Homo sapiens: one gene and its partners. The protein of the gene in region 7 purifies or fractionates together with the protein of the main gene of each other region. This does not show direct contact. Each region holds a gene or a part of one and is shown on either strand. Other genes may lie near its edges. The genes, in order: PRXL2A, KIAA1586, SLC30A9, LMBRD2, GALNT11, TMEM39B and KLRD1.

The links.
Region 1: the proteins of KLRD1 (region 7) and PRXL2A purify together in Homo sapiens (affinity purification with mass spectrometry; one large-scale study listed by BioGRID and IntAct). This does not show direct contact.
Region 2: the proteins of KLRD1 (region 7) and KIAA1586 purify together in Homo sapiens (affinity purification with mass spectrometry; one large-scale study listed by BioGRID and IntAct). This does not show direct contact.
Region 3: the proteins of KLRD1 (region 7) and SLC30A9 purify together in Homo sapiens (affinity purification with mass spectrometry; one large-scale study listed by BioGRID and IntAct). This does not show direct contact.
Region 4: the proteins of KLRD1 (region 7) and LMBRD2 purify together in Homo sapiens (affinity purification with mass spectrometry; one large-scale study listed by BioGRID and IntAct). This does not show direct contact.
Region 5: the proteins of KLRD1 (region 7) and GALNT11 purify together in Homo sapiens (affinity purification with mass spectrometry; one large-scale study listed by BioGRID and IntAct). This does not show direct contact.
Region 6: the proteins of KLRD1 (region 7) and TMEM39B purify together in Homo sapiens (affinity purification with mass spectrometry; one large-scale study listed by BioGRID and IntAct). This does not show direct contact.

The regions. Positions count from the first base shown.
Region 1 is NC_000010.11:80,411,134-80,415,595, forward strand, and holds part of PRXL2A (peroxiredoxin-like 2A isoform 1 precursor), read left to right. Parts: intron 1-2,699; exon of another isoform or gene 2,700-2,740; coding exon of another isoform or gene 2,741-2,743; intron 2,744-4,462. UniProt on the Homo sapiens protein: Involved in redox regulation of the cell. Acts as an antioxidant. Inhibits TNFSF11-induced NFKB1 and JUN activation and osteoclast differentiation. May affect bone resorption and help to maintain bone mass.
Region 2 is NC_000006.12:57,048,962-57,052,939, forward strand, and holds part of KIAA1586 (E3 SUMO-protein ligase KIAA1586), read left to right. Parts: intron 1-1,812; coding exon 1,813-1,893; intron 1,894-3,724; coding exon 3,725-3,978.
Region 3 is NC_000004.12:42,069,806-42,074,267, forward strand, and holds part of SLC30A9 (proton-coupled zinc antiporter SLC30A9, mitochondrial), read left to right. Parts: intron 1-720; coding exon 721-886; intron 887-4,462. UniProt on the Homo sapiens protein: Mitochondrial proton-coupled zinc ion antiporter mediating the export of zinc from the mitochondria and involved in zinc homeostasis, zinc mobilization as well as mitochondrial morphology and health.
Region 4 is NC_000005.10:36,134,348-36,138,809, reverse strand, and holds part of LMBRD2 (G-protein coupled receptor-associated protein LMBRD2), read left to right. Parts: intron 1-1,368; coding exon 1,369-1,536; intron 1,537-2,290; coding exon 2,291-2,501; intron 2,502-2,586; exon of another isoform or gene 2,587-2,674; coding exon of another isoform or gene 2,675-2,758; intron 2,759-4,462. UniProt on the Homo sapiens protein: Recruited to ligand-activated beta-2 adrenergic receptor/ADRB2, it negatively regulates the adrenergic receptor signaling pathway. May also regulate other G-protein coupled receptors including type-1 angiotensin II receptor/AGTR1.
Region 5 is NC_000007.14:152,028,356-152,032,817, forward strand, and holds part of GALNT11 (polypeptide N-acetylgalactosaminyltransferase 11), read left to right. Parts: intron 1-4,462. UniProt on the Homo sapiens protein: Polypeptide N-acetylgalactosaminyltransferase that catalyzes the initiation of protein O-linked glycosylation and is involved in left/right asymmetry by mediating O-glycosylation of NOTCH1.
Region 6 is NC_000001.11:32,096,571-32,100,744, forward strand, and holds part of TMEM39B (transmembrane protein 39B), read left to right. Parts: intron 1-3,720; exon of another isoform or gene 3,721-3,871; coding exon 3,872-3,992; intron 3,993-4,170; coding exon of another isoform or gene 4,171-4,174. UniProt on the Homo sapiens protein: May protect the cells against DNA damage caused by exposure to the cold-warming stress and facilitates tissue damage repair during the recovery phase.
Region 7 is NC_000012.12:10,309,908-10,314,369, forward strand, and holds part of KLRD1 (natural killer cells antigen CD94), read left to right. Parts: intron 1-1,556; coding exon 1,557-1,708; exon of another isoform or gene 1,709-1,712; intron 1,713-3,499; coding exon of another isoform or gene 3,500-3,502; coding exon 3,503-3,606; intron 3,607-4,462. UniProt on the Homo sapiens protein: Immune receptor involved in self-nonself discrimination.

The DNA of each region.
Region 1 (4,462 bases), on a different chromosome or scaffold from region 7:
GGGCATCTGTTGCTCATAAGGCTCTGTGTGCCTGCATCATCAGTATGCTAGACAAGGATGGACAGAGTCTTGTTATTGTGGGGAAGAGAGGTGCAGAATGGCTTCTCAGCGGAGACTAGGCAATGAGACCCTTAAGACATTTGGCTTCAGATTATAAGCTGCTTACCAAGGATTGGGCTTGGGAGAGGCTGATGATGTTCTCTCCAGGCAGCAGATTTCCCAGGCCCTGTTTACGGGCAGTCTTGCTCTTAGCTTGCCTGAGGCCAGTGAACAGGCTTCAAGACCTGCAGGGCCCCACTTCCTGAGCCCAGACTGCCATGCTATTCCAGCCTTAGAGGCCACTGGCCCTTGGCTGGCTGCCCAGGACCTAGCGTGTCTGATGCAGGATAAACAGTCATGGACTGGAAGTTGGGAGACCCAAACCTGAGTCCCAGTGCAGCCACTGACAACCTGCCCTGCCCATGTGACCTTGGACTAGCCAGCTCCTTCTCTGAGCTTTAGTTTCTTCATTTGCTCAGTAAAATGAGCTGAACCAGCGCTTTGAGGGAAGGAGAGGGAAACAGAGGAGACCAGAGAAGGAAGATGAAGCATCCTTTCAAGACTTGTTCACTGAGGGCCTGAGGCAAGGAGGCCCATGTGCACTCTTAGTTTTTTGTCTCCCTCAGCACCTTTTCTTGCTTCTCCCCTATCTCTGCCTCAGGCCAGCTCATTCTGAAGAGGGACGATTCCCTGGGTGGGGCTGGGCTGGGCAGGTGTACCCTTGATGTTTAGAATATGATGCTGTCTCTACTTGTTTCAGACATGATTTAACTCAGCCAGTGCTGATACTTTGTTTCATTAAGACTTTATCAGTTCCTGCCCAGAGGCAGCTCCTGGAACAGTCAGGAGTTAGGCCCAGCAAAGGAGGCAGGGTGAATGTGCACACCCAGCAGAAGAACAGTGGTGGCAGGGGTTCCCATGGCTTTCTAGACATCAGATCCCTGTAGTTGCAGTCACATGGTACTTTAGAGTCTTTGGATGTCAGAGCTAAGACAACCTCATAGAATTTTGAGTTCCTTCCTCTGTATAGATGATGAGATCCAGGCCCCGAGTGTCTTCATACCTTAAGTCAGATTGCCCTGCTAGTGAGCAGTAGAGCGAGGACCCAGCCTAAGGTTACCTAAGTCCCAAGCTAGAGTGTTTTCTTTAATATCAAGCCAGCCCTGTCCAAAATTGCCTTTCATACTGAACTGAAATTGGAATTGAGTAGTTATAAGTTCCAAGTCTGCCTCACTGTGGAATTCTAAGAGTAAAATTCAGATAATTTAATTAACATTTAATGCCTGATAATTACCAGGATCTGTGTTGAGTGCTGGGGATGCAGGAATGAAGACGACAACACATTGTGCCAACATATTGTGGAGACAGACATGTAAATAACTAAAATTTACACAATTCATTTGTGCATTGTGCAGGGTTATGGGTGTGTGCGCACACACATGCACGCTATAGAAGAGGTCAGTGAGCAGTCAGTTGTCAGGGCTTTCAGGAAAGGCTTTGGAGAGGAAGTGTTATGTGTGCTGGGCCTTATGAATAAGTAGGCATTTACGTGGTTGGCCTGGGTCAGAGGGGGGCATCCCGGGCAAAGGAAACAACATGAGCAACACTTGCTGAAGCCAAGCTGTGGAGGGCCCCATCAGCTGGCTTGCTGAGGAGTTTATTGTTAGTGAGAGTCTGAACACAAGGGAAAGGTGTAATCAGGTGGGGGTGTGCTGGGATCGCTCTGACTACGGCTTGGAAAATAAACTATAGAGGACCAGACTAGAACCAAGCCAGATTCATTCTGTGGTTCTTGAAATAGGCTAGGGACAGAGTTATAGGATCCTGGGTTTGGGCAGCAGCAGTGAGGTCGAGAAGAGGATGGGTAGCAGATACATTTTAGAAGATGGACAGAACTTCCTGAGTCGATGTAGGCAGTGAAGGCAAATGAACAGTAAAATGTGAACCCCTGTCCCCCACTGTCCCCCCTCCCTGCCCCCCCATCTACTGAGCCATGGAACTCCAGCAGAGAAATCGACTTTAGTTTTGGATGTGGTACAACCAAGACACCTACAAAACCCCCAAGTGGAAACTTTGGGTCAGAACAGCAATAGGAACTTGGAAGTCAATAACAAAGTGGTGGGAGAAGTGCTGGAAGTCACCCAGGAAGGGAGTGTGGGTTGAGGGAAGCCACCGATGTGGCAGAAAAGGAAGGGAAAGCAAAAGGAGGTAAAGAATAGACAGCAGATGAGGGGCCTCAGAGGTGCCAGCTGACTTTCCAGGCCTGGGGTGAGGAATGGGGCAAGGGAGCAGGCTGCACGAGGAGCCACAGAGAAAAGGACATCTTCTTTTATTTGCGCTAGTATGACATGTGGGCTGTGTTACGAGCTTTGCTTCTTTAGTCTGCACCGGATAGCAGAGGAGTCTGGTGGCACTTGGGAAATGTTATAATCTGCATGACTGCAAATGACTCAAAGCTTTGCTCAACTTTTTGAAGGGCTAGGGGGCCTTGGCAGCTTTCCATTTAGATGTTTTCTGGAGACTGACTGTTGGCAGCTGAAGGAGCCCCAGGGTTTCTGGGTGGCCTGGTCCTGCCTATGGAGTGACTGAGCCTAGGGACCTAGTCCCGCCTCCAGCCCTCCCCTTGCCGCCTGCCCAGGCCCGTCTGCTCACCCCTGGATATACTTCTTTGTCAAGAGAAGCAGAGGTGTGGACGCTGTGTATGGTGAGTGCCTTGTTCCCAAGTTTGAAGCGTCTGAGGTTGGGGGTAAGAGACCGTTTGAGGAAGGGAGTTGCCTTGTATAGGAAAGAGACAGGGTCTCGAAGCTGGAAACTGAATTTGGGGCGGTGGGGGCAGTGTTGAGGAGCCTAGAATGTTCTGACTCCAAAGTGACCTGTTTTTGTTAGACTCATAGGATGTCACTGGGGATCATTAGGAACTTCCTCATGGAGTTGAGAAAAATGGGGCCTGGGGAGGAATTGATTCAGCTTAGCCTAGGGAGCCCGACTGGGTCTCGTCCTCTTGCACCCATGTTCAGACCAGAGCTGCCACTCTGAGCTGCCACAGCTGTTGTTTGTTTGTGGCTTTATCCTACTTCACCTTCTGTGGGAGAGGGTGGATCAGATAAGCCCAGCAGTGGGGAACTGAATGCTATAGCTGTGTCAGGTGGGGGCTGGCTCTTCTGTAAACAACCCTACTATTCTGTTTCAGAGAAACTGACCCTTTCCTTAATGGAAGGGGGGATAGAAAGGGGGAGGAAAGAGAAGGAACATCTGGTGTATGGTAAATTTCCTTTAGAGTAAACATGGTTTGACTGTACACGATGACTGAAAAAACAAGGTGATTAAAAACACATTCTCTTTAAGACAGAGGGAATCATACTCCTGGATCTCCAGGACCGACTTCTTTCTTCTTTTCTTTGTTAATCAACAATTACAGCAGATGTAAACCCACTTCTGAATGTGTGGCGAGGAAAGGTAGTCTTTCAGGCTTTGGAGTCCTATTCCTGTTGACTTGGGTCCAGGTTGTAGTACTGCTGCCTGCTGGCTCTGTGACACAGGGAAGTTACTGAACTCTGAACCTCAGTGTTAGCTGCTAAACAGGATAATCTTTGCATCACAAGACTGTTGAGTGAATGAAATTAGGCCATTACTGACAGCTTCTAAGACGACTGGCTGCAGAGGTACGAAGGATTGCTGGCCTCCATACCTCTGCAATCTTAGAGACCCATGTGAAAATGCATCATTTCTGTTTAGAAATTAAAATTCCTTTGATTGTCCTTTTTTGTGTGTAGGAAAAATTGTGATTTCAGAATTCAGGGTCTGCTCACTGTGCAGCAAGTCACAGTAGTACGTGCTTCAAGACATGCCAGGATGGGAGTTGCTTTGTAGCCCAGGGGACTTGGATAAGAGGCTAGGCCTGTGTGCTCTCCAGGTATTCCTGGAAGTGAATTTTCTGTGCTTCTCTCTGGCACAAGAGTGGGCTGCTAGAGGCCCACTGGGTGCGGTCTGTCCATGGAGAGGCCTGATGCTCACCACTGGTCCTGATAACACTCTCAGCATGGTGCTGCAGTGCCTGAGGATGGGGTCCACTGCCCCAGAGGGCTGAATCTCTGCTCACACTTTCAGGATCACAGTGGGAGGTCAGAAGACAGCACTTATGGGGGTTTTGAGGTCTGGATCTTGTACCCAGCCCTTGAACTTGAGGTATGGAGATGGGGGTCTTTGGAACATAGAGGTTTGAGTTCTCAGGGTTCCTTCAGCACTGACACCTGCCCCAGTCAGCCTGCTGTCTCCCAGCTTAGCTGGCCCCATCCCAGCCTAGCCTGTCCATGCTGCCTCCTGTGTCCTACACCGGCTCCAAAGCCACTTCCTTCTGGGTGCTTCTGTGGCTACCCAGACTGGCTGTTATTCCTGCACCACCATAGCCTCATGCCCATACATT
Region 2 (3,978 bases), on a different chromosome or scaffold from region 7:
TAGCTGAGGTTTAAAACTCTTACTTTAAATTTTATTTTAAATATAAAGATCCTTCTACATCTTTTCATACAATATTTTGTATATCCAGCGTGATAGAACCCTTTATATTTAACCCTGTTCAAAATAGAAGATCAAAGGTTTGACAGCTCTTATATGGAGAAGTGAATTACATGCTGTCAGTGTAATTGCAGTACCAGAAAGAATGTAGTAAAACATCCCTGTTGCATTTCAGTGGTGCCACATAAAAGACAATGATAACTTAATTCCACTTTGAAATACACTCAGAGACAACTTTCCTTTGTAACCCCATCCTATACTGGGCTCTACCAGGATATGCTTATTTCTCTGTGTTTTTTATAGTACCATCCAGTAAAGATGCAATGCTGCTGGGTATAGTTCTCTGCTTGTGGGTTCTTCAGATTAAAAGAAAAAAAAGTTTGTTACTTCTTGATATATTCTGGTTTGGATTCCTTAGTCTTTTCATATAAATGTTGATTATCTAGCCTTCATTCTGCGTTGTGGCACAGAATCCTCTTTGTGTTCTGTCATGTACCTAGCCTCCAAAATAAACAATATGCTGAAAGAAAGGAATGATAAAAGATTTGGGGATACAAAAAGAGTCCTTATCTTAATGTAAATTTTATTGAAATATAGTACCTATACAGGGAAGGTTACTTCCTCCTTGCCATCACTATTTTTGTACCACATTACCATTTGTCTAGATTGATTATCTTGTTTGTATTCTTCCCACATGCTCTCTTATGTGGTTAACCTTCTTGAAACAGCTCTAATAATGTTCCCATCTTGATGTTATTTATTGATTCCTTTGCCTACAGAATAAAATCTAGGATTTTGACTAGGGCATTTATGGCCTGGTCTATGATGAGGGTAGTGTATATGTAAAGAAAGGATCAAGAAGACTCAGAGTTTGATGTTTGGCTGTACAGTGATGTGGAGGATAAAGCAGGGTTATCAAAGAACTTCGAGATTACTGATAATCATTTCAGTTAAAAAAAATTGTACTATGAAATCTGTTATCTTTTTTTTTTAATGAGGTAGGGCCAGGGGGTGGGTTTTTCACTATGTTGCCCAGGCTGGACTTGAATTCCTGGGCTCAAGTGATCCTCCTGCCTCAGCCTCCTGAGCAGCTGAGACTGGCACTGTGCCTAACTGAAATCTGTATCTTTTTAAATCAATATCTGTGCTATTTCCCATTTTGAAAGGAATCTACATGGCTTTATTCCTCTATATAGATTTAGGCTCTTTGGGTTTTGTCATTATTATGTTTTTTTTTTTTTCCTTTTTACTAGCAGGAACAGTATTACGTATTCATGTACTCTGACTCTTTTCCCATGCCTCTTTTTTTTTTTTAGACAGTGTCTTGCTCTAAATTTTATCTAGGCTAGAGTGTAATGGCATAATTATAGCTCACTGTAGCCCCAACTTCCTGGGCTCCAGTGATCCTCTCACCTCAGCCTCCCAAGTAGCTGGGATTACAGGTGTGAGCCACCGTACCCATCTGATTTTTTTTTTTTGTAGAGTTGGTGTCTCACTATGTTGCCCAGGCTGATCTTGAACTTCTGGGCTCAAGTGATCCTCCTGTCTTGGCCTCCCAGTGTGCTAGGATTACAGGTGTGAGCCACTGCTCCCAGCCCCTTTGCCCGTTTTGTTTCTAATTATTCTGTGCCACTTGCAAGATTTTCTCGAGAATCTTTCCCAATTCCAACTAAAAAAATCTCCCACTGATTGTTAAATTTAAGTTTAATTGGAATGATTGTTCATGACTTGTAAATTTGCCCACTTCCTTTTTAGGAAGGACCATCGAGACCTGTTCTTGAATACATCGATCTGGTCTGTGGTGATGATGAAAACCCTAGCGCCTATTATAGTGATGTAAGCACATTATATTTGTGTTTGTTCAGTTTTCTTATTAAGTGCAATAGTGTGTTGGTGGTAGCTTGAACTGGATCATAAGAACTAATTGTTGGCCAGGCACGGTGGCTCTCGCTTGTAATCCCAGCACTTTGGGAGGCCGAGGCGGTTGGATCACTTGAGGCCAGGAGTTCGAGACCAGCCTGGCCAGCAAGGTGAAACCCCCATCTCTACTAAAAATACAAAAAATTAGCCGGGCTTGGTGGCACATGCCTGTAATCCCAGCTACTTGGGAGGCTGAGGCAGGAGAATCACTTGAACCTGGGAGGTGAAGGTTGCAGTGAGCCGAGATCATGCCATTGTGCTCTACCCTGGGCAACAGAGCAAGACTCCTTCTCAAAAAAAAAAAAAAAAATCTAATCGTTAAACTTTCAGGAATTTTGTGAGCTGATTGTAAACATAACAGTTATTACAAATTAAAGTATATAAATGCACAAGTACATAAATGATCATATTTAATACATCATTTCCTACTTAATACATCATTTCCTACTATCTGTGCACTTGAGGTTATTTGCATCTATTGGTAGAAATACTATTAATACATAATAGTGTCCTGCTGCAGTATTGATAGAACATTACCCCATTGTAATCAGTAAAATACAAACTAGAATTTGATTTATTATTTGTTGATTAAACTTAAGAAAGTGAAGGATAGAATGTTAATGCAGATTAAATTTCAAAGTGTGATGTGTCTCTGCTAGACTAAATGCAATACAAAAAAATTGAGGAAGTTGCTTTGCAATATTCCAAAACTCGGCCAGGCATGGTGGCTCACACCTGTAATCCCAGCACTTTGGGAGGCCAAGGCTGGCAGATCACTTGAGGTCAGGAGTTCGAGACCAGCCTGCCCAGTATAGTGAAACCTCATCTCTACCAAAGATACAAAAACTAGCCGGGCGTGGTGGTGCATGCCTATAGTCCCAACTAATTAGCCAGGTGTCGTGGCACGTGCCTGTAATTTCAGCTACTTGGGAGGCGGAGACATGAGAATTGCTTGAACCCGGGAGGTGGAGTTTACGGTGAGCTGAGATCGCGCCACTGCACTCCAGCTTGGGTGACAGAGCGAGACTCCGTCTCAAAAAAAAAATTTTTTTTTAAACTCTTCATTAGTTCGGAAAGATGTTGATGTCATTGATGAATGAGCGAAACTCTAATATATGTCTTTATTGTTTCACTTTCATCTTATTCATTAATGTAATTGAAAATATTATCCACCCTTCATGTTGCTACTACAGTCAGCCCTTCATATACTGTGGGTTCCACATCCGTGGATTCACCCAACTGTAGATGGAAAATATTTTTTTAAATAATAAAAATACAATAATAAACACATTAAAAAGTAATACATTATAAAAACTTTTATGGCATTGATATTATATTAGGTATTAAAAATAATCTAGAAATGACCTCAAGTATAGAGGAGGATATGCAAAGGTTGAGTGCAAATACTTCATTTTATACAAGGGACTTGAGCATGGGAGGATTTTGGTATGGGGAGGTGCAAATAGCATACTCATTTGCGAAACATATGACCAACCATTTTGCTAATTGGATGATAATTCATAGTCAAATTTTGTGAAACTGTTGTTGGTTGTAGAATTTTAAAAACTAATAGTGGGTTTTTCAAGAAATAGCAAGTCATATTGATATTATAGATATAAACTGAAAATCAGGTTAAATATTTAAGTTTAAAATGTATTTCCAAAATTAGATAATCACTAAGAGAACTTTTTACATTGACCCTTAAAGTGTTATGAATTTTACTTACATATGTAAAATTATTTTTCAGATTCTGTTTCCTAAAATGCCAAAACGACAGGGTGATTTTTTGCATTTTTTAAATGTGAAGAAGGTGAAAACAGACACAGAAAATAATGAAGTGAGCAAAAATCACTGCAGATTGTCTAAGGCAAAGGAACCACATTTCGAGTATATTGAACAACCAATCATTGAAGAAAAGCCATCACTTTCATCAAAGAAAGAAATAGATAATCTTGTGCTTCCAGATTGTTGGAATGAAAAACAAGCATTTATGTTTACAGA
Region 3 (4,462 bases), on a different chromosome or scaffold from region 7:
TTAGAATCAGAATCACCTGAAGGGCTTGGGGAAACACAGAATGCTGAAACCCACATCCAGAATTTTTTATTCAGGGGCCTGAAATGAGGTCTGAGAATTTGCTTTTCTACCAAGTTTTCAAGTGATGGCTGCTGGTCCAGGAACCACACTTTGAGAAGCACCACCTTGAGGCACCTATGGCATGTAATGAATTAAGTTCTCTCCTTTTTATCTAGAATGATACTAGCTATATATCATCCTTGGTTGGATGAGAAGAGAGTCACCCATATTATTTTCTGTAGGGCTTAATTCTCTTACAGAACATTAGTAGGAAGAAGATACGGAAAAAGGTTTCTTTCAGCTTTTGATTCCACTGTTATTTTGTCTATCTGGTGTAGGAAAAGTGCTATGGATATATCTAAAAGAAATGGACTCTTCATTATGTCATTTTTTTGTATTGGTGTCTCTAATCTAAATGTGCTCAGAAACTTCACATATGTAATGACAGGTACAAGTAAGAGATCTTAATTATGTCACATAGTACTCTTATGAAAGCAAGTTGTAGCATCCTCATTTTGTGGTATATTAAAACTATTAGGAGTTGTTAAAGGAAGTAATTAAAGAAATTAGGAATAAATTTCAAGTGCCTTGATTTACTCGTTCTGGTTCTTTGCTCTCTATAAAGTTCACTGAAATAATATAAACTGTTAATTTACTGATTTTTTTATGTGCTTCATTTAGGCAATCCACTGTATGACAGCCTAGGTTCTTTGGGTGTGGGCACCTTATTAGGCATGGTCTCAGCATTCCTCATCTACACTAACACAGAAGCACTCTTAGGGCGGTCCATCCAGCCAGAACAAGTACAACGGCTCACTGAACTCCTGGAGAATGACCCATCAGTAAGGTCAGCCTTATTCCAGTAATCCTGTTAAGGCTTACAAAAACATATTAAAAAACAGAAATGCCTGGTTTGTAAATACTTCCAGAGGAAGTTTTGGATTCCTCGTCTTCAGAACGTTTTAGTCTGTAACTTTTCAGAATTATAATCCTGGAAGTAAGAAAGAATACACTTAGGAAACTCCTTCTAAGTTTCCTTTTAAATTTTCTATACTTCTAATTTTTAGAGTAAGGAAGAGTCAAGTTGATATAATGAGAATGGAAGTTTGCAAAGTAGTTGTCTTCTTAGTGGAAATACTTAATATGGAACCTGTAGAGTTGCCTTATATTCGCATTGCAATTACAAATTGAATATATTAAATTTAAAAAGATTTTTGTTCATTGGGCAATGATTACCAAATTAAATATAATTTATATTTACTTTGAAAATAGACTTTGTTTTAGCTTATTTTAAGTATTTTTCTTATAATCTTTATCTTTTAAATTATGTAAAACTAAAGAACTGGAGACTTAGGAGATAATCAGCAGAAGAGATACAGAATTCTAATAGTGCTTTTCAGTGAAATTCTAGCAGCATTGTGGTTTTATAATGAAATAAAAGAACAAACCTTTAAAAACCCAGTTTTCTACTAACTCGCTCTATATTTTTTCAAACTTTAAAATAAGATTTTTTTGTGTATTGTACTTGAAATCTTTAAGTTAAATCTTTTTAAAATGACCCGTATATCTGAATTAGTAAAATATATTAATGATTACTAGATTTATATTCTATGCCCTATATGTTTAATCTTGAAAAGTAACTATCTTATTGGAACAAGATTAGAAAATGAGAGATGGGCACAGTGGCACATGCCTATAGTTCCAGCTACTTGGGAAGCTGAGGCAGGAGGATCACTTGAGGCCACGAGTTTGAGGCTAGTGTGCAATGATCATGTCTGTGAATAGCCACTCACTGTACTATATTCTGGGCAGCATAGCAAAACCCTGTCTCAAAAAAAAAAAAAAAAAGATTAGAAGTTGAGCATTATGAAAGTCAGTATTAGAGTTATTAACATAATGTGAGATAATCCAAATTAATATCCTTTCTTTGTGATGTTTTTGTCTGGTTTTGGTATTAAGATAATACTGGCTTCAGAGAATGAGTTGGGAAATGTTCTCTCCTATTTTTTTGGAAGAGTTTGTGAATAATTGGTGTTAGCTTCTTTAAATGGTAGAATTCAAGTATCTGGATATGAGCTTTGCTGTGTGGGTAGTTTTTTGATTAGTAATTATATCTCTTGTTATGGATCTGTTCAGATTGTCTGTTTCTTCTTGACTTAGTTTAAGTAGCTTGTATTCTAGGAATTTGTCTTTTACTTCTAATTTACCTAATTTGTTGGTATACAGCTATTTATAATATTCCTTTGTAATCCATTTTATTTCTTTAGTGTTGGTACAAATGTCTCATCTTTCATTTCTGTAATTTGAATCTCTCCTTTTCTTGGTCAGTGTAGCTAAAGGTTTGTTCATTTTCTTGATCTTTCTAAAGAACCAGCTTTTGGTTTAATTGACTTTCTCTGTTGTTTTTCTATTTTCTTTTTCATGACTTTCTCCTTTAATCTTTATTATTTTTTTCCTTCTGCGTGCTTTCAGTTTAGTTTGCTCTTTTTCCACTGTCTTAAGGTTAAGCTTTTAATTTGATGTTTCTTCTTTTTTAAAATAGACAATTACAGCTACAAATTTTCCTTTAAGTATTGCTTTCTCTGCATTCCACACATTTCCATATATTGTGCCATTTTCATTATCTAATAGTATTTTCTAATTTCTTTTTTTATTCTTTTCAGTTATTTAGGGGAGTATGTCACTTAATTTTTACGTATTTGTGAGTTGCACAGATTTCTTTCCATTATTGATTTATTATTTTGTTCTATTGTGGTCAAAGAATATGTTTTATATTAGTTCTGTCCTTTTAAATTTACCAAGGTTTGTTTTATGGCCTTACATATAGTCTTGGATAATATTCATGTGCACTTGAGAAGAATGTATATTCTGCTGTTGTTGTAGAGTGTTCTGTAGATGTTTGTTAGGTTTAATTGGTTTATAGTGACTTCAATTTCCCTAATTATCTTCTTGCTCTATTGTTCTATCCTTTTTTTTTTTTTTTTTTTAGATGGAGTTTTGTTCTTGTTGCCCAGGCTGGAGTGCAGTGGCACGATCTTGGCTCACTGGAACCTCCGCCTCCCAGATTCAAGTGATTCTCCTGCCTTACCCTCCCAAGTAGCTGGGATTACAGGTGCTCACCACCATGACCAGCTAATTTTTGTATTTTTAGTAGAGACGAGGTTTCACCACTGGCCATGTTGGCCAGGCTGGTCTCAAACTCCTGAGAGACGAGGTTTCATCACTGGCCATGTTGGCCAGGCTGGTCTCAAACTCCTGACCTCAGGTGATCCACCCGCCTCGGTCTCCCAAAGTGCTAGGTGTGAGCACCGTGCCCGGCCTCTGTATCCGTTACTGAAAGTATCGAAGTCTCTAGTTATTGTTGTTGTATTAGCTCTTCCTCCCTTCATTTCTTCTTGGTTTTGGCATCATATATTTTGGTGCTCTGTTGTTGCTACATACATGTTTATAATTTTGTATATATTGTTTAATAAGTAATGTCTAAAAAAGAGCTATAAACTGAAAGACTGGCAAATTCGAAATTTTGTGGAAGAGTGAATATCTGTGGATTCAATTATTGGAAAAAATACGTTAGTAATCCAGAAAATTCATACAATTTTTTTAAACAGTATATTAGTTACCTACTGCTGTGTGACAAATTGGCCCAAAACTTAGTGGTTTAAACAACATATTACCATCTTACAGTTTCTGTGAGTCAGGAATCAGGGCACAGCTTATCTGGGTCTTCGACTTCAGGGTTTCTCATAGACTGTAATCAAGGTGTTGACTGGGATTATAGTCATCTCCTGGGGAAGGGGCTGCTTCTAACCTTACTCACATGATTGTTCGCAAGATTTAGCTCCTTGCCAAATGGGCCTCTTCAACATGGCAGCTTGCTTAATCAAAGCGTGCAAATTGATAAGGCAATAGAGAGCGAGTGTGAACAAGACAAAAGTCACAGGTTAGTCACCTGGTCTTGGAAATGACATCTCATCACTTTGCCATATTTGGTAGTTATAGCCCACATTCAGTGAGAGGAGATCACACAAGGGCTTGCGTATAGGTGGCAGGGATTGATCATATGGGAGCCCTCCAAACAGTTTTCTGTCTGTAGTTAGTTATATGTAAGAACATAAGGAAAAAGTATATCTAAATATATTTATTAGTTGCTACTCACATACCAGCCAAATAATGAAATGTGTTTATACTCTGTGAAGACTAAAGTAGAAATGATTTTTGAAAATGAATAAATATGTTCTGTGAGTTACCAGGAGAGAAAAAAAAAAGAATAAATGATATAGCCTTTTGCCAATCTGAAAAAGTTTTGTTTTAACTTGAGCACATGTAACTATAAATATTAAAACATTAATTCTTATTTCATCCTTGATGGTTGATTAAAATATAGCTTCCTTATATGGATAAAAAATTTTGGACTCAGTGTTTA
Region 4 (4,462 bases), on a different chromosome or scaffold from region 7:
GAAAAGAAAACAAACAAAAATGAAAGTCTCTCAATTCAGATTCCTTTCCAGCTTCTGCCTTGTTGATCTGATCACAACTAAATTTTTTTAGAAACTTTTTAAAATTGAAGCATAAGTTCGTACCGAAAAATGCATAGATTGTGTTTAGTTTGACTTTTTTCAAAGTGAATACACCCATACACCAGCACTCAGATGATGTTATAGAACATTAGCAATGCCCCCAGAAGCCTCGCTCACGCTTCCCTGTGTAGTCATCCCGCACTCCCCAGAAGTAACCATGATTCTGACTTCCGTCACCATAGATTAGTTTTTGCCTGTTTATGAACTTTATAAGCATAGAATTATACATTGTGAACTTTTTTGCATCTCTCTTTGCTCACATATTTGGGAAATTCATCTATGCTGTGCTGTATGTATCAGTATTCTGTTCTTTTCCATTTCTGTAACATACCCCATTATATGTATATGCCATAGTTTATCCTACCCAGCCAAACTTCTTAAATAAATTCTCTATATTTGATATCTCCACTTGCTCATTGTTTACTTATTTCTTAACCATAGTACTCTGCTTTCTATTCTCCTCCACTTATACATACAGGTTCTTAATTTACTTCACCTCTTGGCGGCATTTGATTCTCTCTCTCCACTTTAACTTTCCTCTCCTAGTTCCTAATCCATATGCTCCTTGGTTTTCTTCCTTGCCCCACTATTGTTCTGTCTCAGTCTCTTTTGCTGGTCTACCCTCCTTCTGTTCTCTACCTCTCTTAAAAGTTGATATTTCTCAGAGTTCTGTCTCAGTTCTTTCCTTCACATTCTCCATACTCATTCTTACAGTTGAGTATCTACTGATGTTATTTCACTGCCATTGATACAGTGATGACTTCGGAAGCTATCCATATTTTTAGTCCGCTCTCCTGAACCCTGAAGCTGGGTTTGTGTGCAGCTCCTCTTGGATGTCTCCTAGGTACTACTTCAAAGTCAGTATGCTGTCAACTGACCTTCTCCCTTTTTGCTTCTTACCACCATCATCACCCTTCCCCCTCCCAACTAGTTCCAATTTTGTTCCCCTTTTATCCATTCTCCGTGTGAAGCCTTAGGAAACTAAAATTTGATCAAAAATGTTTTCTTTGAATGTAGTCCAGACTCTTCATAAAGGCTTTAAAGACCCATTTGCTTTCCCTAAAATTTTATATTACAAAAATACTCAGTCATCTATTATAGTTATTAAGTATTCATGATTACTTATAAACATTTATTAATGAGAAGACCTATTCATTAAAATTGAGATTCATATATTTCTGGCACTTTGAGATTATACAGACATATCAATTATTTGGGTTTTTAATCATATTTTTTCTATCCATCTAGGATTCTCTTACCTTTTATGCAGTCATATGCAAGATCAGGAGGGTTTTCCATCACTGGAAAGATCAAAACTGCACTAATTGAGAATGCAATCTACTATGGCACCTATTTGCTGATTTTTGGAGCATTTTTAATTTATGTAGCTGTAAACCCACATTTACATTTAGAATGGTAAGAAAAGTAGTCTTCTTAACATTGCTTTAATGTATGTTTGCATTTTTAAAAAATCATTTTTAATTTCATATGTGCAGGTAAAAAGACATTTCATTGAGAAATATATTGTTACATATTTTATGGATTTCCCCAAAAGAATATGTGAATAATCCATATTACTAAGAAAATATGGAATGACATCTTTAAATATAGATTTTAGGCAAAAGATTAATGATTAGTCTAATGGCTATATATTAAAAGTAATAACCCTTATGATTTTTGGATAGAATTTCAAAATTTTTATGATAAAATAACTGGTTTTATTTTTCATTGGAACTTGTGATTTTTTTTGTTTTGATTATAATTTGAAGGCATATTTGTTCTTAATGTTACCTTGGATTTAGATATTTCAATAAAATTGAAATCTGTTTTATACTTATGATTTGTAATATATGTGAAGGTCTACATCTGAAAATTTAGGAATAGATCAGCAGTGCTAGGTCTCACTATTGTATTCCTGAGATTTGCTAGGTCAGCAACACAGGTTAATTTGAAACATTTTCAAACTTCTTTTGTTTAATATAGAATAAGAAATCACCTAATGAAAAATGTTTCCTTTGGGAAAATATATACATATTATTGCCATGAATTATTCTAGATGCTAATTTTAACTGCAGTAGAAACAGTGTCTCCTGTGTTAAAGTCTATTTATGCAGTCGCATTTTATCTTTCCATTAAAATATACATATTATCTGTTGTTTCCCTTTCTTAGGAACCAGCTTCAGACAATTGGGATAGCTGCTGCAAATACATGGGGTCTGTTTCTTCTTGTGTTGTTGTTGGGGTATGGCTTGGTGGAAATTCCTCGATCATACTGGAATGGAGCAAAAAGGGGTTATCTACTTATGAAAACGTATTTTAAGGCAGCCAAACTGATGACAGAGAAAGCAGATGCAGAAGAGAATTTGGAAGATGCCATGGAGGTAAGCAAGTTTGAACCTTATAAGCAATAGTCACTAAGTCATATGTATCCCCTTTTAGTCATTTTTGGTTTGTTGTTGTTGTTAGTGCATTGATGGGCTTCAGACTGCAAAACTGGTGTTGTGCAATCCTTCAGGATGTCTCATCCAGGATGACTTTTTAGCAGTTCAGCCTCATGATGTGTCTTGTCCATCTTCTGTCTGACAGAGATTCATGGAAAATATATTCAATAGTGCAGGGCTACGCCTATTATTTTGAGGTAACTTTTAATAGTACCCTCTTTAATTTTCAAAAGTCTCCGAGATTAAATGATAAATTGTATGGTTACCCTAACATAGTAGAACTGAGAATAATGACCAGAGGACACTTATTTCCGAAAGGTTAACCTAAGGTAATCCCACCAATTCTGGAAACCTCTTTAAAGAACAATTTGCATGGGAGTTTGTATTGGTAAGTTTTGTTTCCTATCTGTAATCTTAATAAGACACTTCATTTTACTTGATGACTTAACCTAGTTTCACAAAGTTGTTGAAAGTATAACTTTCAATACTGTACATAAAAATATACAACAAATTATAAAATTTTTCTGTGTTAAATAAAAATTTTGTTATGGATTTAAAGAGATTATTGTAGTCACCTCACATTTTTGCTTCCCAGGGAAAATATGCTACTCAGCTGATGATACTCTCCAAATTAAAACTCCTGTTGAAGGCTTTTCATTCATGTTAGAATAAACTCCAAAATGTTTTAATGCAGCCTACAGAAAAATAATTTGGCCTATGTTTAGCTCTCCAGCTGTATCCCAAGCCTCTATTTTCTTGCACTGGTCATCTTTGGTTTCTCAAACTTGCTAATGTTGATGAAATAATAAACAATTCTATAGACTTAATATTTACCTAACACTCAACTTTCGTTCCTCAAACTTAGTAATGGTGATAATTATAGTAAACAATTATATAGACTTACTATTTGCCTAAGAGGGACTTTCTAAGCACTATACATATATTTAATTCTCATGACTTTATGATAGAGATTTTTGTAAATCCCCATTCTATAAATGAAGAATATGAGGCACGGAGAGATTAAGTAACTTTCTCATGTCTACATGGCTAGGAAGTGATAAGAGCCAGGCAGTCTTGCCTTAAACAGGGACTGACAAACTTTTCTGTAAAGGGCCAGATAGTAAATATTTTAGGCTTTGTGTGCAATGTCATTTCTATTGCAACTACTCTGTCATTGTAGGATGAAAGCAGCCATAGCCAGTAAATAAATGAATGAGAGTGGGTGTGTTCTAGTATGAGAACAAGTAGTGGACTGAATTGATCTGGCTTGATGACCATATGCTTAATTATTACACACATTGTCTTTCTTTTCTATCTTTGAGCATGCTATTCCCAAACTATTAGAATGCTCTTTTCAGCACTCTCTTCAGCTAATTCCTATTTCATTTTCAAGTCTTAACATAAATGATAATTCTTCAGGGAAGCTTTATTAGCTTCCTAGGACTGCTGTAACAAAACTACTACAAACTGGGTGGCTTAAACAATAGAAAATATTGGCTCACAGTTCTGGGGACTAACGTTCAAGATTAAGGTATCTGCAGGGTTGGTTCCTTCTGAGGGTTCTAGGGAAAATCTGTTCCATGTTTGTCTTCTGTCTTCTGGTGGTCTACGATCTTTGGCATTCCTTGACTTGTAGACCCCTGCCTTCATCTTCACATGGTGTTCTCCCTGCGTGCCAGTGTCCAAACTTCATTGTTTTGTAAGGACACCAGTCATATTGGATTAGAGTTCATCCCACTCCAGTATAACCTCATCTTAACTTAGCTAATTAAATCTGCAACAACCCTATTCCAAATAAGATCACATGTTAAGATACTGGAGGTTAGGTTTCAGGGGACACAATTCAACCCATAACATCTTCCCTGATTGTCCAGACTCTTAAACACTCAGCAACCATTTTT
Region 5 (4,462 bases), on a different chromosome or scaffold from region 7:
TTGGTGCGTTTACAAACCTTTAGCTAGACACAGAGCGCTGATTGGTGCATTTACAATCCTTTAGCTAGACAGAAAAGTTCTCCAAGTCTGCTACCCAGTTAGCTAGTCACAGAGCACTGATTGGTGCATTTACAATCCTTTAGCTAGACTGAAAAGTTCTCCAAGTCCCCTACCCGATTAGCTAGACACAGAGCACTGATTGGTGTGTTTACAAACCTTTAGCTAGACACAGAGCCCTGATTGGTGCATTTACAATCCTTTAGACAGAGTAGTTCTCCAAGTCCCCACCCGACCCAGAAGCACAGCCAGCTTCACCTCTCAATCCCCCCCCTCTAAACAGGACACCCCAACTGCTGTTGGGAATTTGGCCAATGACTGCTGTAGCTACTTCCTGCTGGATAGGGGTGAAGAAGGGGCCCTGCAATTGTAGTGTCCTCCAGAGGGGAACTCTTTAGGCCAGTGAAAGGGCCAGCAGGTTGGTCCAGGGGTCCTGGTAGAAGTTTAGTTGAGCTCATTTGGAGTTCCATTTGTAAGACCATCTGTAGCTTGATGGTCTCAATTCTAGAGGAAACAAATTTGAAAAGGAGGTTAAAAATACAGGGCCCGAAGGCAAGTAATAGCAAGATGGCTGCCACAGGACCTAGAAAGGGGAGAAGCCATGTTGTCCAACTCCAGAGGTTGGTGTAAGAGTTTGAAAGGCGTCTGATTTCAGAAGCCTTTTCCTATAAATGTTGGGTGGCATCTCATACTATCCCTGACTGGTTAGTGTAAAAACAACACTCTTCCCCTAAGAAGGTGCAGAGTCCTCCTTTCTCAGCAGTGAGGAGGTCTAGGCCTCGGTGGTTTTGGAGAGTCATTGCTGCCAAAGAGTCTATTTGGAATTGTAGTTACTATCCTTACTGGATAGATTTTGTTATTTCTTGCAAACTCTCTTGAGAAATCCTTTGAGAGTGTGGTAGTAGGATAATGAAGTAGGTAAACTGGCTATTCCAGTTCCTGTAGCAGTGGCCATTTCTAACCCTATAGGTAGGGGTATTAGTTGTATGGCTCTGCACTGACGGACTTGAGCTTTGAGGGGTACTGATAGGGTCTGATTTCCACAAGATTAGAAGTTAGAATAATATATGTTTACACTGTTAACTTTTAGCAAACTTTACTTTTGTTGAAAACCTTGTAAGTTTGGGATTTCAATTATTCTTTGCTATTAATAAGACCTCGTTCAGTCCATATTAACTTAGAATTGATATAGATGGCTCCTTCCTGATTCTGTAAGTACTTTAAGGTTTGGCTGAGTGCAAACAGCTCGCACATTTGAGCAAACCAATTATTAGGCAGTTTTCCTAACTCTGCTTCTACAGTTCCCTTATCATTTACTGAATACCCCTTGTGTCTTTTTTCCTTAATCACCCAGGAGGAACCATCTATGGTCCTGTCCTGAAGGGAGTTCCTCCTAGATCTGGTCGGACCTTTGTATGGTAGTTAGTTAAGATTTAGATCCCCTGTTAGGAAACCTGCTGGGTTAAGGATTTTTGATAGGAAGGCTATGGGTTGTCAGTGGCCTCAGTGCTTTTGGGCTACGCCCTTGTTTACACTGACAACAAGGTGGTATTGGAGTGTTACAGAGTTACAGAGAAGGCCTTCAATTATCAGTTATAGGTTTTAACTTTACTGTGGCTTTTAAAGGAATAGGGTGTAGGGTCCAGCCCCACAGGGTCGGTGGGTTTTTTCCCCGTGTGCGGAGACGAGAGAGTGTAGAAATAAAGACACAAGACAGAGATAAAAGAAAAGACAAGAGGTAGAGGAGTAGAGTCTTCTGTAAACTCCCACGGGGAAAGGGAGACTCCCTTTCCTGGTCTGCTAAGTAGCGGGTGTTTTTCCTTGACACTGATGCTACCGCTAGATCACGGGACGCTGGTGTTACCACTAGACCAAGGAGCCCTCTGGTGGCCCTGTCCGAGCATAACAGAAGCCTCAACTCTTGTCTTCTGGTCACTTCTCACTATGTCCCCTCAGCTCCTATCCCTGTATGGCCTGGTTTTTCCTAGGTTATGATTGTAGAGTGAAGATTATTATAATATTGGAATAAAGAGTAATTGCTACAAACTAATGATTAATGATATTCATATATAATCATCTCTATGATCTATATTTAGTATAACTTCTTATTTTATATATTTTATACTGGAACAGCTCGTGCCCTCAGTCTCTTGCCTCGGCACCTGGGTGGCTTGCCGCCCACAATAGGGTACACTGTTTTTTCTTTACTACTTCTATCTCTCTTTCTCTTTGATGACTTCTTTGTCTCTCTGAGTCCCTCTTTGTCTGTCTCTTCCTCTCTCTCTTTGCCTTTCTATGTCTCTCTCTCTGACTCTCTCTTTGTCTCTGTCTCTTTGACTTTGTCTCTTTCTTTCTCTCTGACTCCTTTGTCTCTCACTTCCTCTCTCTGTGTCTCTCTCTGATTTTCTGTTTCTTTCTCTCTTTCCTTTCTGCTGGTCTTTCCCTTCCTCTGCCAGCCACTTATGCTGCTGTTCTCCCCTCTCCTTCCCGTTTTGATGGCTTTGGCAGTGTAAGACTGCCACCTCCTTGGGTTTTTGCACTGCATGCAATAACTCCATGGTTTCCTTGTGGTATTTAATGGGGGTTCCCCCAGAGGTTAGAAACTCCCTTTCTTTCCATATTGCAGCACAGGCATGTAGGATTAGATAAGCATACTTGCTACCTGTATACACATTTATTCTTTTTCCCTTTCCCAGTTCTAAGGCTCAGGTAAGTGCCACTAGTTCTCCTGACTGGGTGCTGGTCCTTGGGGGAGGAGGCTTACTTTCAAGTACGGTTACGTCACTAACTATGGCATAACCTGCCCTTCGTATCCCATTCTCCACAAATGAACTTCTGTTGGTATATAGATTAAGGTCAGGATTAGCTAAGGGGACTTATAAGAGGTCATCTCAGGCAGCATAAGTCTGGACTATAATTTGTTGGCAGTCATGCTCGATTGGTTCCCCATCCTCTGGGAGAAAAGTGGCAGGGTTGAGGGCCACGCATGTATGTATTTGAAGCACCGGTCCCTCAAGGAGTAGTGCCTGGTATCTAAGTAGGTGGTTGTCTGATAGCCATAAACTCCCTTTGGCACTTACTATGCCATTTACATCATGAGTAGTCCAGACAGTGAGATCCTTTCCTTGTATTATTTTGATAGCCTCTGACACTAGGATGGGTACTGCTGCAACTACCCTTAAACAGTGAGGCCAGCCTTTTGCTACTACATCAATTTCCTTACCTAGGTGTGCCACCAGTTGTCAGACACGAGTCTGAGTAAGGACTCCAAGAGCTATCCCTGCTCTCTCTGTGATGTATAAAGAGAAGTTTTGTCCTGTGGGAAGGCTTAAAGCTGGAGCTTGTACTAGGGCCTGCTTTAAGGTTTTGAAGGCTGTTTCTGCCTCTGGTTCCCATTCTACTAGATGAGTATTTGCCCTCTGGGTCTCCTTGATTAGAGTATAGAGGGGCCTGGCTATCTTGCTCTATCTGGGGATCCATAGTTGGCAAAAGCGGTGATTTGAAGGAACCCCCACAACTGTTTTAAAGTCTTAGGGTGAGGATAAGCCAGTATAGGCTGTATTCGTTCCTTGCCAAGGGTCCTGGTCCCTCTGGCTAAGATTAGGCCTAGATATTTGACCTGCTGTAGGCAAAGCTGGGCCTTTGACCTAGATGCCTTGTACCCTTGATTAGCTAGAAAATTCAAGAGATCTAGAGTAGCCTGCTGGCATGAGGCTTCCGAACTGGTAGCCAAAAGTAAATCATCCACATACTGAAGGACCAGAGTGCCTGGACTTGAGAAGTGGCCTAGATCTTGGGCCAGTGCCTGACCAAACAGATGAGGGCTATCCCTAAACCCTTGGGGCAAGACGGTCCATATAAGTTGGGATGTGTGGTCTGTGGGATCCTCAAAGGCAAAGAGAAACTGGGAGTCATGGGAGTCATAGTGCAGGGGAATACAGAAGAAGGCATCCTTGAGGTCCAGAACAGGGAACCATTCTGCTTCCTCTGGTATTTGAGAGAGCAGGGTATAGGGGTTGGGTACAACTGGATATAGAGGAATTACTGCCTCACTGATGAGTCTAAGATCTTGCACTAGACTCCACTGACCGTTCGGTTTTTGTACTCCTAGAATTGGGGTGTTGCAGGGACTGCTGCATTTCTTTACTAAGCCTTGAGCTTTTACATGTTTAACAATATCCTGTAATCCTTTATGAGCTTCAGGCCTTAAGGGATATTGCCTTTGATAAGGAAATGTGGTGGGATCTTTTAACCTGATTTGGACTGGGCAGGCATTTTTTGCCCTTCCAAATTGTCCTTCCAATGCCCAGACTTCAAGGTAGATTCCTTCCTCAAGTAGGTGACACCAAATGGGTAACTTGTTCCCCATATTCATGTAGATAATAGCTCCAGCTTTGGCTAACAT
Region 6 (4,174 bases), on a different chromosome or scaffold from region 7:
TGCCTCGGGCCTCCCAAGTAGCTGGGATTACAGGTGTGCACCACCACACCCGGCTAATTTTTACGTTTTTAGTAGAGATGGGGTTTCACCATGTTAGCGAGGCTGGTCTCAAACTCCTGACCTCAGGTGATTCACTCGTCCTGGCCTCCCAAAGTGCTGGGGTTACAGGAGTGAGCCACTACACTTGGCCTAGGCCTTTCTTTTTAAGGTAAAATTTCCATACAGTGAAATGTGCAATCCTTTTTTTTTTTTGAGACAAGGTCCCACTCTGTCTCCCAGGCTGGAGTGCAGTGGTGCAATCACAGCTCATTACAGCCACAACCTCCTGGGCTCAGGTGATCCTCCCACCTCAGCTCCCAAGTCGCTGGGATTACAGGCGCATGCCACCACATCCAGCTAATTTTTGTATTTTTTTGTAGAGACAAGGTTTTGCCATGTTGCCCAGGCTGGTCTAGAGCTTATGGGCTCGAGCGATCCACCCACCTCGACCTCCCAGAGTGCTGGGATCACAGGCATGAGCCACTGCACTTGGCCTACAAATCTTAAAGGGTACAATTCTTTCAGTTTTGATAAAGGTATATATACTCATGTAACCCACCCCTCATTCAAGATATAGAACATTTCCAGCCCTTCAGAAAATGTCCTCATGGCCCTTCCCAGTGATCCTTCCCCCAAGACAAACTACCTTTCTGTTTTCTTTCACGAGAGGTTAGTTTTGCCTGTTGTAGAACTTAATATAAATGAAATCGTGTCCAACTTCTTCTTTTTTTTTTTTTTTGCTACAGAGTGTCACTCTGTCACCCAGGCTGGAGTGCAGTGGCGCGATCTTGGCTCAGTGCAATTTCCGCCTCCCAGGTTCAAGCAGTTCTCCTGCCTCAGCCTCCCGAGTAGCTGGGATTACAGGCGTGCGCCACCATGCCCAACTAATTTTTTGTATTTTTAGTAGAGATGGGGTTTCACCATGCTGGCCAGGCTGGTCACGAACTCCCAACCTCGTGATCTGCCTGCCTCAGCCTCCCAAAGTGGAACTGGGATTATAGGCGTGAGCTGTTGCACCCGGCCCCAACTTCTTTTTTTTGTTTGTTTGTTTTTGAGATGGAGTCTCGCTCTGTCGCCCAGGCTGGAGTGCAGTGGTGTGATCTCGGCTCACTGCAAGCTCCGCCTCCCAGGTTCACACCATTCTCCTGCGTCAGCCTCCTGAGTAGCTGGGACTACAGATGCCCGCCACCGCACCTGGCTAATTTTTTGTATTTTTAGTAGAGACAGGGTTTCACCATGGTCTCAATCTCCTGACCTCATGATCCATCCGCCTCAGCCTCTCAAAGTGCTGAGATTACAGGCGTGAGCCACCGTGCCCGGCCCCCAACTTCTTTTATTCAGCATATTGTTTGTGAGGTTCATTCATGTTATGAGTCGCACAATAACTTTTCTTTTTTGTTTTTTGAGACGGGGTTTCGCTCTTGTTGCCCAGGTTGGAGTGCAGTGCTGCGATCTTGGCTCACTGCAACCTCCACCTTCCGGGTTCAAGCGATTCTCCTGCCTCAGCTTCCCGAGTAGCTGGGATTACAGGCCTGTGTCACCATGCCCCGCTAATTTTTTTTTGTATTTTTAGTAGAGACGGGGTTTCACCATGTTGGCCAGGCTGGTCTCGAACTCCTGACCTCAGGTGATCTGCACACCCTCGGCCTCCCCAAAGTGCTGGAATTACAAGTGTGAGCCACTGTGCCCAGCCAACTATTTTTTTTTTAAATGAGTGAGTCAGCAAGGCAAGAGCATTGGGTTGAGAAGGGGGCTGCTTACAGGCTGTGACTTGCAGTCCTCTGGTCCAGGCCCTTGGGATTCCTGGGAGATCTCACAGGACATTATAAGAAAGCTCACTGGGCCAGGTGCAGTGGCTCACGCCTGTAATCCCAGCACTTTGGGAGGCCAAGGCGGGCGGATCACGAGGTCAGGAGATCGAGGCCATCCTGGCTAACACGGTGAAACCCCGTCTCTTCTAAAAATACAAAAAAATTAGCTGGGCGCAGTGGCGGGCGCCTGTAGTCCCAGCTACTCAGGAGGCTGAAGCAGGAGAATGGCATGAACCTAGGAGGCGGAGCTTGCAGTGAGCCGAGATAGAGATAGCGCCACTGCAGTCTGGCCTAGGCGAAAGAGCGAGACTCTGTCTCAAAAAAAAAAAGAAAGCTCACCGGTCCTAGCATTTCATTCACATGCTCACTAGGGCCTCTCTGTGCCAGGCCTTGCGGCATGCTCTGAGGACACAGGGATGGATTAGATCCTCCCGCTCAAGGGCTCTCAGCCTAGTGAGGTATACAGATGGGAAATAAATAGATGACCAGCATTGGGGAATGTGGACTAGTAGCAGGAGATGCAGGGAACAGTTAAAGGATGCCAAATGGGCCAGGCACGGTGGCTCATTGCCTGTATCCTAGCACTTTGGGAGGCCAAGGCAGGCAGATCACGTGAGGTCAGCAGTTTGAGACCAGCCTGGGCAACATGGCGAAACCCCGTCTCTACAAAAAATACAGAAAAATTAGCCGGGCGTGGTGGCAGGTGCCTATAGTTCTGAGGCAGGAGAATCACTTGAACCCAGGAGGTGGAGGTTGCAGTGAGCCGAGCGCCACTGCACTCCAGCCTGGGCGGCAGAGTGAGACTCTGTCTCAAAAAAAAAAAAACACTCATAGGTTGGAATTGAACAATGAGAACACTTGGACACAAGGTGGGGAACATCATACACCAGGACCTGTGGTGGGGTGGGGTGGGGGAGGGATAACATTAAGAGAAATACCTAATGTAAATGACGAGTTAATGGGTGCAGCACACCAATGTGGCACATGTATACATATGTAACAAACCTGCATGTTGTACACATGTACCCTAGAACTTAAAGTTTTTTTAAAAAAATAAAAGGATGTCAAACTCTAGGGAGTTTGAGAAAGGCTTTGTGGAGGAACCTGGGTTTTGAAAGATGATGAAGAGCTTACCAGAAGGATTAGGCTTTGGGAAGGGCAATCCAATTGGAGGGAGCAGCTTAGGGAGAGACGTGAAGCAGTACAGAGTGCTGGAGGAACGAGAAACAGCATGAGCTGTGTGGTGAGGGTTGTGGGAAGCCACACAAGACCTCAGAGGCCATGTCAAATCCTTGGGGCCTTGACCCCAAGGGCACTAGGAAGCCTTCAAAAGGTTTTAAGCAGGACCAGGCGCTGTGGCTGACGCCTGTAATCCCAGCACTTTGAGAGACTGAGGTGGACAGATCACCTGACGTCAAGAATTCGAGACTAGCCTGGCCAACATGGTGAAACTCCATCTCTACTAAAAATACAAAAATTAGCTGGGCATGGTGGCAGATGCCTGTAATCCCAGCTACTCTTCAGGCTGAGGCAGGAGAATTGCTTGAACCTGGGAGGCGGAGGTTGCAGTAAGCCAAGATTGTGCCACTGCACTCCAGTCTGGGCGACAAGATCGAAACTCATTCTCAAAAAAAAAAGCCCACAAAGAGTTTTAAGCAGAGGGTGGTCAGGCTGAGCTTAGTATTTTACAAAGACCACTCAGACAACTGTGTGGTGGACCACTTGGAGGCAAGAGGTGAGACCAGATGAAGCAAAGGGACCCAGAGAGGAAGAAGGGTTCTCTCAACAGTCTCTTAGTAATTAATGTCAGCCCTAGACCACCTAACTCACAGTACAGTGAATTCCTCATGATTCTTACCCCATTTTACAGAGGAGGCAACTGAAACCCAGAAAAGGAAAGTCAGCGTGTCTAAGTGATAGAAATGGGAGTAGAGCCCTGGTGATTCCCTCCTGCCCATTCTTCTGGTATCCCTTTTGTGGGTGAGCTGGGGATAAGGGGCACCATTGAACTGTGCCCCCAGGTGGACTGAAGAATGCATGTGGCCGCAGGGCGTGCTGGTGAAGCACAGCAAGAACGTCTACAAAGCCGTAGGCCACTACAACGTGGCTATCCCCTCTGACGTCTCCCACTTCCGCTTCCATGTGAGTCTCCTCCCCGGGGAAGGAGGGTTGGGGCCTGAGAGGGTGGGAGGATCTGCAGGGCAGGAATGTGATGTCATTGCAAGAGAAAGCTATTTTCAGTATTTCCCCAATCCAAAGGAAGACAGTGCACACATGTAGCACAAGGACAGCCATATAAATTGTCACTTAATAACTGCAGCTCG
Region 7 (4,462 bases):
AGCCTGAAACGAAAGATATGTTTCCTATATGAGTGCTCATAATTAAGTAACAAAAAATAAACCACAGGAAATGTTACAGTTAATCCTCATTACCTGCCTGAATTTGCTTATAACCTATACTTTTGCATCTCACTACTTTTCCTTTTCCAGAATATACTGCACAGATTTCTAAACCTTACTTATCCAGTGAAAGCCAGCTCAAAGTCCAATTTTCGTTTTTGGAGATGGAGTTTTGCTCTTGTCGTCCAGGCTGGAGTGCAGTGGCACGATCTTGGCTCACTGCCACATCAGCCTCCCTGGTTCAAGTGATTCTCCCACCTTCCTGCCTCAGCCTCCCAAGTAGCTGGGACTACAGGCGCCCGCCACCATGCCCAGCTAATTTTTGTGTTATTAGTAGAGTCAGGGTTTCGCCATGTTGGCCAGGCTGGTCTCGAACTCCTGACCTCAGGTCATCCACCTGCCTCGGCTTCCAAAGTGTTGGGATTATGCCGTACCCAGCAGAGCCACTGCGCCCGGCCTCAATTTTCTAAATATGTATTTTTCGGAATGCGCCCCAAGTTGTCTCACCATCATCTTGATTATATAGTGTTTATTTACAGTGCAACATCTTGGCCAGGCACAGTGGCTCACGTCTGTAATCCCAGCTCTTTGGGAGGCTGAGGTAGGCATATTACTTGAGGTCAGAAGTTCAAGACAGGCCAACCCCGTCTGTACTAAAAATACAAAAATTAGCCAGGCATGGCGGCACGCACCTGTAGTATCAGTTACTCAGGAGGCTGAGGCATGAGAATCACTTGAACCTGGGAGGCGGAGGTTGAAGGGAGCTGAGATGGTGCCACTGCACTCCAGCCTGGGCAACACAGCAAGACTCTGTCTCAAAAACAATTAAAAAATATAAAAATAATAGTGCAACATCTTCAGCACTACTTATATGGCAAAGATTTGAGTGCCTATGACGTGTCATGTTTTTATTACCGTGGGTAACAAACGTTGAAGACACTATTATTGATAAACTGTATAATTAAGCCTCAAGATAATTGGTTTATTTATATTCCCTTTTCAAAAATAAGATATCCAAACATATATCAAAATTCTCCAAATGTACCATATTCTTTTCTGACTCAGAAAGTATGCTAAAATGTTTTCCTCCTTTAAATCTTTTTCATCTAGTTAACTCCTATTTATGCTACAGTACTTAGTTTTGAGTCACTTCCTCAAAAAAAGGTTCTTGTAACTGCCCCTCATCTTACACTCTGCTACATGCTGTTTTAACATACTTAATTTTTTTGTACTTATCTAAATCATCACTAAATATCGTTAATAAATTATTGAAAATTATATAATTGTAATTCTATCTCTAGAATATAATCTCCATGAGGAAAAAGCATCATGTTCATGTCTAATTAGTTCACATTAGTAGCCCCTGAAGTGTGGTGTATACAGTAGATTCTGAATGTTAAAAGAATACACAGCAAATAATTTTTGAATAATTAAATAGCATTGAAAAAAATGTCTAGTCTCCAGTGTCATTAGTCATGCTTTATGTTTTCTGTCAGACTCTGACTGCTGTTCTTGCCAAGAAAAATGGGTTGGGTACCGGTGCAACTGTTACTTCATTTCCAGTGAACAGAAAACTTGGAACGAAAGTCGGCATCTCTGTGCTTCTCAGAAATCCAGCCTGCTTCAGCTTCAAAACACAGATGAACTGGCATGTGCTGAGTCTGATTTTCTACATTTTCTTTGATCTAGAAAAATATACTATCTAAACAAGTTAAATACTTTGGTTTAAGTCATTAATCACATAGTAAGTGGATGGTTATATTGGAATTGAGTTATCTGTTCTGTGTACCTTAAAGTAGTCATTGTAAAATCTTTATTAAATTCCTTAATGATTATATCATGGGAATACAAATCAAGATAGGTGCCAAATAAAGTGAAAGAAACTTTTCAGGAAGAATTCAAAGAAGATAATAGGTCATTATATTTACCCATTTTATTTGAAGAACCAACTAAATGACTGTGATTCTTAACTCTTTTAATTGAATTTATAATATCTTTTATAATTTTATAGTTTTTGTCATCTTTCTGGGATATAAGCTAGTATGGAAATATGGTAAGAAAACGTACCCAATTCTTTTCTTTTCTTTTTTTTTTTTTTTTTTTGAGACAGAGTTTTACTCTGTTGCCCAGGCTGGAGTGCACTGGTGCAATTTCAGCTCACTGCAGCCTCCACCTCCTGGGTTCAAGTGATTCTCCTGCCTCAGCCTCCTGAGTAGCTGGGATTACAGACACCTGCCACCAGGCCTGGCACTTTTTGTATTTTTAGTAGAGACAGGGTTTCACCGTATTGGCGAGGCTGGTCTTGAACTCCTGACCTCGGGTGATCTACCCTCCTTGGCCTCCCAAAGTGCTAGGATTACAGGCATGAGCCACCGTGCCTGGCCCTAATTACCCAATTCTTTTTTGTTTGTTTGTTTGTTTGTTTGTTTGAGATGGAGTCTCGCTCTGTCGCCCAGGCTGGAGTGCAGTGGCGTGATCTTGGCTCACTGCAAGCTCCTCCTCCCGGGTTCACGCCATTCTCCTGCCTCAGCCTCCCGAGTAGCTGGGACTACAGGCGCCCACAACCACGCCCAGTTAATTTTGTGTATTTTTAGTAGAGACGCGGTTTCACCGTGTTAGCCAGGATGGTCTCGATCTTCTGACCTCATGATCTGCCCACCTCTGCCTCCCAAAGTGCTGGGATTACAGGCGTGAGCCACCGTGCCCGGCCCCTAATTACCCAGTTCTTAAGAAAAAGTGCGGCCGGGCGCAGTGGCTGAAACCTGTAATCCCAGCACTTTGGGAGGCCGAGGAGGGCGGATCACAGTCAGGAGATCGAGACCATCCTGGCTAACACGGTGAAACCACGTCTCTACTAAAAATACAAAAAATTAGCCGGGCGTGGTGGCGGGCGCCTGTAGTCCCAGCTACTCGGGAGGCGGAGGCAGGAGAATGGCGTGAACCTGGGAGGCAGAGCTTGCAGTGAGCTGAGATCGTCCCACTGCACTCCAGCCTGGGCGACAGAGCAAGACTCCCTCTCAACAAAAAGAAAAAAGAAAAAGCGAAAAACTTCTCCTGCTGCACGTGGCACCTTTGCGGATTATAGGTTGAGTAGATTATACCCATGGGATTCCTCCTTCACAATACCATGATTTTGGAATCAAATTTAATCTTTGATCCCCCGTGAAGAAAGTGTTCCATGAAAACTCTATCTCCTTTTAGAAGGTTTTTAATTCTTCAGGAAGTGAGATTTTGTGGTATTTTTTCTCCATATATGAATGGGCCTGATAAATGAGAACTTTCAGTCTTGTGATTATACCTTTTAAATAGGAAGTTAAAAATAATTTCCGTTTGTGTGATGGACAGGCTGAATCTTATTCTAAACACTGACTTTCCCTCAAAATATGTTATTCCCAGAATAGATTAAAATTAGATTAATGTGATTGTCTTTTACTTGAAGCAGGATTTTATGAGCTCCAGTCAACAATTTTACTGGATTGGACTCTCTTACAGTGAGGAGCACACCGCCTGGTTGTGGGAGAATGGCTCTGCACTCTCCCAGTATCTGTAAGTTTCTGGCAATCATGGCGTTTTTTGCTCTTTATGAATTTGTCCTTAAATGTGACTAGTAAAGGTAACATCCAGGAGCACTGTGGCTGAAATAACCTTGTCTAGGGCATGAGAATACAGTAAAAGGAAAAAGTACAACAAAATAACAATTTTAGATCTAGGCAGATCTAAACCACTCTAAGTGTTAAAATCAAAACAGAAGATAATGCCTAATGAAAGGAGGTCGGGGTATAGGATAGTTGGTGCAAAAAAATACTGATAACCATTACATGCTTGCCTGTATTATTTTAAATTTTTTAATTAAAAATATATTATTTTGTAGTCACATGGACAACAAAACCAAAACATTACAAATCTCCAGAAAGTGCAATGCATAAGCTCTCTTAGTTCAAATTAAACATTTGAAAGGTATTATATTTCATCCTATATCTTTTGTCAGTTAACTGAAGTGCATTTTTCCTAAATCAATCTTCATACAAGAATGTGAAGAGGGCCAGGGATGGTGGCTTGAGCATCCAAGTTAATGCTCAAGTGACATGAAATTTAGTGTATTCGTGGCCATAAAAGAACTTTTAACATATGCTTTATTTTTGCCTTAGTACCAGCACTTGGAAGTATATGTGCATGTACAGATACTCATATACACAGAGGCAGTCCAAAAAAATAGTATATTTATTATTTTATTTATTCTGGTAGACCCCAATATTCTCAGCATGCTCTTATGTTTTATATACTATAGACTCATTGTCTGTATGTGTGTACTTTTTGAATCTCATTTTCATTTATAAACATGAGATTTGCAGCATCACACAGGGACAAAGTTTATGCTCTGGTTTGTTTTCCTAGACTAGAT